Homo sapiens: one gene and its partner. The protein of the gene in region 1 purifies or fractionates together with the protein of each later gene. This does not show direct contact. Each region holds a gene or a part of one and is shown in the gene's direction. Other genes may lie near its edges.

Evidence for each region.
Region 2: the proteins of GUCA2B (region 1) and PYY purify together in Homo sapiens (affinity purification with mass spectrometry; one large-scale study listed by BioGRID and IntAct). This does not show direct contact.

Annotation. Positions count from the first base shown.
Region 1 is NC_000001.11:42,152,117-42,156,500, forward strand, and holds GUCA2B (guanylate cyclase activator 2B preproprotein), read left to right. Parts: upstream 1-1,293; 5' UTR 1,294-1,334; coding exon 1,335-1,424; intron 1,425-2,563; coding exon 2,564-2,750; intron 2,751-3,418; coding exon 3,419-3,480; 3' UTR 3,481-3,704; downstream 3,705-4,384.
Region 2 is NC_000017.11:43,952,001-43,955,345, reverse strand, and holds PYY (peptide YY isoform 1 preproprotein), read left to right. Parts: upstream 1-1,405; 5' UTR 1,406-1,496; intron 1,497-1,862; coding exon 1,863-2,050; intron 2,051-2,156; coding exon 2,157-2,237; coding exon of another isoform or gene 2,238-2,241; exon of another isoform or gene 2,242-2,365; coding exon 2,366-2,390; 3' UTR 2,391-2,613; downstream 2,614-3,345. UniProt on the Homo sapiens protein: This gut peptide inhibits exocrine pancreatic secretion, has a vasoconstrictory action and inhibitis jejunal and colonic mobility.

The DNA of each region.
Region 1 (4,384 bases):
TCTGAGATAAGAAAAAGGAAGATGGCATTTCAGGCAGGTGGAATGAGTAGGCAAAGACATGAGATGGGATTAGACCTGTGCAAATAGGGTTGGTATGGGGAAGCACGATGACATCAGATTTTAGCCACTTTTGGGAGTGGCATCTTAAATGCCAAGGTGAGCTATCAGGGCTTCAATCCAACGTTCAGGCTCAATGTCAGGGGAGCCTGCCACATGCCAGAGTCTGTGCCTGGCAGAGCTGAGCCCTGGCACACGCACTGTTTACAGCTGCCTGGTATGGCAGTGGTGATATCACCCTTAGAGACTTTGCCCTCTTCTCTCTGACCCAACCTTCAACCACTGGGGCAGTAGGTTATGCATTGCCTAGAAGGCAACTGTAAGATTCAGGGGCTGCTATGGATGCATTACCCAGGAGATAAGGGCAACCTCAGGTGGGCCGGGGCCCTCACAGCAACCTTACGAGAGGGGTTGTATCATGCCCATTTGATGGAAGAGAAAACTAAGATTCCATTAGAATTGATGTGACGTATCCTAAATCACACAGCTGCAGCAGGACTAGGATTTGAATGCGGGTCAATCTGCCTCCAACACTACTGCCTTTTCCTCCATGCTGGATTAGGCTATTGGCTTCTGAAAGCACAGACAGGTGAGATGGGTCAAACATGGCCTGAAGCACCCAGGCACAGGTGGGAGATGGCAAGCAGAGGCAGGTTCAAAACGTGGGGCCAGGACTGGTCTGAAAGATAGTCGTTAAATAGCACTGAGGAGAGGGAGTGAGAGAGATGTGGGTCTTGGGGGAGTGGGGTCTTGAGAACCCTGAAATCAGCAGTGTCTGCCCACTTTGCCCTGGACCAGCCTCTCTGTCTGTATCCTTCCCCCAGAGAAAGGACCATGGGCTGACCTGGGCCAAGGACACCTGGCTGGAGCCCCTTCTCTGACATTAACTAGCTCCGTGACCTGGGGAAAGCCACCCTCCCTCCTGAGCCTCACTTTTCCTGTCTGTAAAATGGCCTCCCCGTCATCACACCCACACAGGTGTCTTGAGGAGTGAATGATGGTGTGCTCCAAGGCCCCCATGGAGAGCCCGGCACATGGCAGGCACTCGGTGTTCAAGCACTGTGTTCCCATAGACTCTGGGCTCCTGCCCTCCTCGCCCCCAACCCCCTTCCTAGGAACCAGCCCCGGCTTGTCAGAGAGCCAGCTAGCTGTCAACCCCACCCCAGCTGGCCAGTTAATGAGTGACCAGGACTCCTGAGCCTGACCTATAAGGAGGTGCTAGGCAGGGACACAGATGGGAGACGGTGGACAGCGGCAGGGGGAACCCAGGGAGCGCGATGGGCTGCAGGGCTGCATCAGGGCTCCTGCCAGGAGTGGCCGTGGTCCTCCTGCTGCTGCTGCAGAGCACACAGTCAGTCTACATCCAGGTGAGTCCCTTGGCCAGCGTTCCCTTTGCCTGAAGGGCCCCATGGTGGGAGGCTAGGCTGGAGAGGGTGTACTGGGAATTCAGAGGGGCACCGGGGGAGCACGGGGCCCGGGGCTCAGCCCAACACCCATCACAGCCCAGAGACCAAGGCAGCTGGTGGGTGGGGGCAGCCAGATGTTGATGGCAGTGATGATGGCAATGACAACACCAAACTGATTCAGCGCTGCTCCCCTCAAAGGCCCGTGCTGGTCACAGAGGTCAGGGTGTGGAACAGAAGGCTCCTCCTTGCATGGGAGGAGGCCAGAAAGGGAAGGAGACACCCTGTTATGCTCCCACAGTTCCGTATATTCACCCACATGTAGGTGGAGGAGGACAGGCTCCAGAAAAATTTTCCTGAGAAGTAACCCTTGAGCTGGCATTGCAAGATGAACAGGAGGTTGCCAGACACAGATGATGGGGAAACTGTTCCAGGCCAAGGGGCACAGCATGTGCAAAGACCAGATAGAAGACTATGGGGGTTCCAGTGCCCTTCCAGGGGGCATGGGAGAGTGGCAGTAGTCGTCACAGCAGGGCCTGTCTGCCACGTCACAGGGGATGCTGCTGGCCTCGCCCAGCATAGCAGAGACGTCTGTGGCCCTGGGTGTCACATCCCTGACTCTGGGCATGGTCTCCTTGGGAAGAACAAAGTGGGTCCCAGAGAGGGGTGCAGGAGACTTGGCCTCCCCAACAGCCCTGGCCTCAGAGACCAGCTACTTGGGGCTGCCATCACTCTGCCATGTGAGCTCAGGCAGGCGTACTCAGTTAGTGATTGTGCCCTGGTACCAGGCCCCCACGGGAGATGTCAGATGAGGGAACTGAGGCTGAGTGGGGAACAGACAGGCAGCCGGTCATGGGCAGAGGTGGGATTTGAACCAGGGCTTGTCTGTCTCTAAAGCCTCGAACCACTGTGCTCCACAGCCCCGCTGCTTCTTCCTCACACCTCTCACCGCAGCGGCTCTTTCCAGTGTGGCCCTGGACTTCCCATAGAGACGGGGAAGGCTCTGGAGGATCTGCAGGGTTTGAGCAACCCTGGGTGTCATGGCAGTGCCTGCCCCTGGACCAGGTCTTGACCTGCTCCTATCTCCTCTCCCCTGTCTGTAGTACCAAGGCTTCCGGGTCCAGCTGGAATCCATGAAGAAGCTGAGTGACCTGGAGGCACAGTGGGCACCCAGCCCCCGCCTGCAGGCCCAGAGCCTCCTGCCCGCCGTGTGCCACCACCCTGCTCTGCCTCAGGACCTTCAGCCTGTCTGCGCCTCGCAGGAGGCTTCCAGCATCTTCAAGACCCTGAGTAAGTGCCCCCGCTCCCTGCAGAACCTCGCTCTGTCTCCTCCCACGCCCAGGCTCCTCCACCTGGGTTGTTTCTCTTAAGCACCCAGCGGCTGAGGATGGGGAGATTCAAGTAACTCAGGCCCTGTCCCACTGGCTCCCAGGACTCCCCGGTTTGGGCACTGTGAGTCAGGCATGCCTGGAACCTGCTTCGTCCCCTTAGTCCACGCCAGGCACAGACCCATCAACAGACAATGGCTGCGTGGAGCAGAGAGGAGAGCTGGCTGACATCTGCGATGGGACAGGGGTGTGAAAGGCTTCCAAGAGGAGGTGTCAGCCAAGCTGAAACCTGAGGGATCGTGCAGAGCCAGGCACGAGAATGTAGCAACTAGCTAGCACTTACTGAGCACCTACTGTGTGCCGGGACTTGTCGGTCCTGCATTATCTCCTCACAGTGACCCTGTCCATTTAGCAAACAAGAAATCTCAGGCACAGGGAGTGTGAGTGACTTGCCCAGTGGCCGCTAGGAAGGAGAGCATCTGGGACTTGAACCCAAGCCCTCACTCCACCTCTAGACGTTCCTGCTCCCAGTCTGTGGAAGATGCCGCCCATTCCCAAGCAGACCTCTTCTGCTGCCTGGCCACAGAGGGCCCAGGTTCAGGTCAACTGACCAGTTCTCTCCCTGCCCAGGGACCATCGCTAACGACGACTGTGAGCTGTGTGTGAACGTTGCGTGTACCGGCTGCCTCTGAGATAGCCCTGGGTACCCTGAGCCCACCAGGGACACCTCGCCCTTCAGCCCACCACCCTGGCAGGCTTCCATCCCCGTCCATGCTCAAGATGGGTCCCTGGCCACCATGGTCATCACCACCCTTCCAGGGCCTGAGCAGCTGGATCTGGTACAAAGCAATCGGACATAGAGTTGGAGGGGGAGGCCCCTGAGGCAGCCCAGCTCCTGAATAAAGATTCTACAACACACGAGTCCACGTGTCCTTTGTTCATCCCCAGGAGCCATGGGAGGAGCTTCTGGAGAAGAAGTGTGGATTGAGGAGAAAGACGGGACTAAAAATACCAGGCAGGAATTTTCCTGAAGTTTTCAAGGCCCGGGGAGTTGATTGAACCCCATCCCGAATATGAGGGAGCTGAGGCTCGGAGCAGGAATGAGGCATCCAGGATCACAGAGCTCAGAAGCCCCAGAGCCAGCCAGACCTGGCGACCCCCAGGCTGAACTCAAGGCCTCCCCAGCTTCGGAGCAAGAGCAACTGTGCTCCTGACGCAGGAGTGGGGTTGGGGCAGGGAGGAGGTGAGACAGAAGGAGAGAGTGGAGGGAAGATTCAAGCAGCATGTCCTCCCAAGCTGTAATCAGGGCCGACTCTGCCTGGGGTCTGCGTGAGAAGATCGGCCCTTGGCCTTCATCCTCATTCCCAAGCTCCCACTTTTCCCAGCCCCACAGGGACCATCTGGCCAGCTCCAGCTGGGAGGCCTTCCCACCCTCTCTCCATCCTGGCAGCCTGAGGAATATTAATAATAATTAATAGCCAACAAACGCCAGGCACAGTGGCTCACACCTGTAATTCCAGTACTTTAGGAGGCCATGATGGGAGGATTGCTTGAGGCCATGAGTTTGAGACAAACCCGGGCAACGTAGGGAGATCC
Region 2 (3,345 bases), on another chromosome or scaffold:
GGCTCAGAACCAAGGGCCTGGACAAGTTGGCCCCATCAGTCCCTATGGGCCGATGGGACATCTGGAAGTACTGGAGGTCTGGCGAGGCCAGGGAGAGGAAGCTGGAAGGGCTTTATGGGGAGACCTTCCCACAGCCCTTTCTCCTCCTGGGCAGGTGGGTTTGAGGGGGTTGGCAGTCTGAAGGTCCTTCCCCTACTCCGCCTCTCAGAGTGGGTGTGGGCCCTAGACTTAGTCTTCGGGTCCCTGCTCCCAGGCCTGCCTCTGGCGCCCCAATGGCTACTCCAGGTGCTGAGCCTTTCTGCCCCTCACAATTGAGAGGTCCTCTTCCTGGGTTCTGCCTCACCCTGCTTTTCCTGTTTGAATTGTGGGTGAGCTTGGCTGCTCCATCACCTCCCAGGGCTTCAGTTTCCTCATCTGGAAAATGGAGATAAACTCAGCTCATCGTCTTGTGATGCCCGAAATTATGCACTACCTAGTGCATAGTAGGTGCTTAATAAACACGAGTCCTTTCCTTCAAAGGATCTGGGCTTAGAGCCCAGTGGAGACTGCCATGGGCTGGGGACAGTGGCATGTGCCTGGGAAGCCTTGGCATCACTCAGGCCCAGAAGACACCAGTGCTCTGAATGACACCTGCATAGGGGTGGAGACACTCTGCCTTGGGAGGGGGCTCTATACCACACATGGCTGGACTGGGGTCTGTGTGTGCCAGTCTGGATACACAGGTGGCCGACTCAGCTGCTTCTGGCGGGGAGATTGGTTTCTGCCTCCTCCTGCCTCTTTTCCAACTCTTTAATAGAGAGAGGACATAATGGAGTGTTCAGAGAGGCCTCTCCCCAAGACACCATAAACTGCAGGTCAGGAGCCAAGGTCAGGTGCTCCCACCCTGCCTCCAGGAGAAAGACTTTCCCCAAAAGGTCCTGTCATTCCTCAGCCCTTCTCCAAGGTATTACTGAACAGAGGCTGAAAAGGGTTGTCTTTTGGAAAGAGTGGTCACACATCCCACGGACTGGAGGGAATGTGTCCACCCTCCCACCCCCAACTCCCATCCACGGACAGGCTAGGGAAGACAGAATCTCAACCCTGGTCCTAGGGGCTGCCCCAGGAGTCTAGATCCAACCGCTTCACTTCCTCAGGAGGCTAGACCTGCCACTGGGGGGCTGTGGGGTGAACATGGGGTTCAGGCTGGGTACCCCATCCAGTGAGACCACGAATCTGAGCATGGCAACTGCCCCCTCAGCTCCTGCGAGGTGGAGACATCACGCACTGGCTGGGTATAAGCTCAGCGATCTGGCGAGGGTGGAAGGAGGGAGGAAGAAGGGCCCACCCCCTGCTGGCTCCCCCTCCCCCTGGGACTCCCCCTCCCTTTCCAGGCGGGGATATAAGCCCCACAAGGAAAGCGCTGAGCAGAGGAGGCCTCAGCTTGACCTGCGGCAGTGCAGCCCTTGGGACTTCCCTCGCCTTCCACCTCCTGCTCGTCTGCTTCACAAGCTATCGCTGTGAGTGGCTGGGGGCTCAAGCCTGGGGAAACCCAGGCTGTTTTGTGGGGAAACTGAGGCTGGGATGGTGGAAGCTGGGGGTGAGTGGTAGGAAACTGGATTGGAGGGGGCCATCGGAGGTGGGAAGGAGGCCAGCAGCGGGGGTGGGGGTGGGGAGGCAGGCAGGGCTTATGCTCCTCTGACATGAGGAAACTGAGTCAGGAGACGGTGCAGTGCCCAAGAACACACAGCAAGCCCGGTGGCTGAGCCTTGGTCCGGTACCAGCCCCAGGGAGAGCGTCGGAGCGCGGCCCCGACGGCAGCCGCAGCCTCCCGCCGTGTAGGGTCGAGGCTTGGAATGACCCACGTCCCAATGTCGCCTTCCCAGATGGTGTTCGTGCGCAGGCCGTGGCCCGCCTTGACCACAGTGCTTCTGGCCCTGCTCGTCTGCCTAGGGGCGCTGGTCGACGCCTACCCCATCAAACCCGAGGCTCCCCGCGAAGACGCCTCGCCGGAGGAGCTGAACCGCTACTACGCCTCCCTGCGCCACTACCTCAACCTGGTCACCCGGCAGCGGTGAGCGCAGGCGCGGAGCGGGACCCCTGGGGCTCTCACCCTGCGGCCCCGCTCCACCTGGGGGCGTGGCCAGATCTGACCACGCTCTTCCCTTCCCCGCCCCCAGGTATGGGAAAAGAGACGGCCCGGACACGCTTCTTTCCAAAACGTTCTTCCCCGACGGCGAGGACCGCCCCGTCAGGTCGCGGTAAAAGCGCCCGTTACCACACATCCTGCATCCGAGAGCGCGGCCTGGCCCTACCCTGGCAACATCACTTAACGACGTCTCCCAGGCTCGCCTCCCCAGATCCAATTCCTTCCCCTTCGCTTCCGCAGGTCGGAGGGCCCAGACCTGTGGTGAGGACCCCTGAGGCCTCCTGGGAGATCTGCCAACCACGCCCACGTCATTTGCATACGCACTCCCGACCCCAGAAACCCGGATTCTGCCTCCCGACGGCGGCGTCTGGGCAGGGTTCGGGTGCGGCCCTCCGCCCGCGTCTCGGTGCCCCCGCCCCCTGGGCTGGAGGGCTGTGTGTGGTCCTTCCCTGGTCCCAAAATAAAGAGCAAATTCCACAGAAACGGAATGTATGCCTTTGTATTTCCTTTCCTTTCTCCTTCGTGGAGGTGGCATCCCGTAGAAGTGGAGGGTGGAGGCGTGGGGGCCAGGGAAGAGAAAACCGACTTGGACAGAGGCGCCCCAGGACAAGGCTGGGGCGGGCTGCGGAGTTCCCTCTGCTCGGAGCCCAGGGAAGACTCGACCACCCAGCCTGGAGCTGGACAGCGCCCAGGCCAGGAACTGCTGTGGAAGGAACTCTGGTCGAGTGGGGGCAGGAGTGGATGGAACTCTGGAAGAAGGGGCGGGGAGCGGCGACAGGAGCCTGCTAGGCAGCCTAGGAGAGCAGATGGGGTCAGGGCTGTCCCTCCCCCACCCCGTGAAGCCGAAGACGGCTGGGGGACGAGTCGGGCACCAACACCCCGGGGCGTTTCCCCAGGAGCTGTAGTACTAGCGCCCAGGGCTGGAGTGGCTGGAGGTGAAGTGTAATCCAAAATGGGGCTGTGGAGGAAGAGCCGTGTGGGGGTGAGATGGCTGTACGTGTGCTGGCCGGAGAGGCAGGCCATTTCTACCGTCCCCCTTTCCCTGAGTAGAGGAGCAATGGGAGTGTGGAGGCTGCCCTATCCCTAAGAAACCTCCCTCCCCAATCTCGCTGAATTCACACGCAGTGGATAAGTCACGAACTGTTCTTTCTTAGTGACAAGGCCATAGGGACACCCTCCATGTACCCCCCTCCCCTGGACTAGCTACTGAAGCCTAAAGG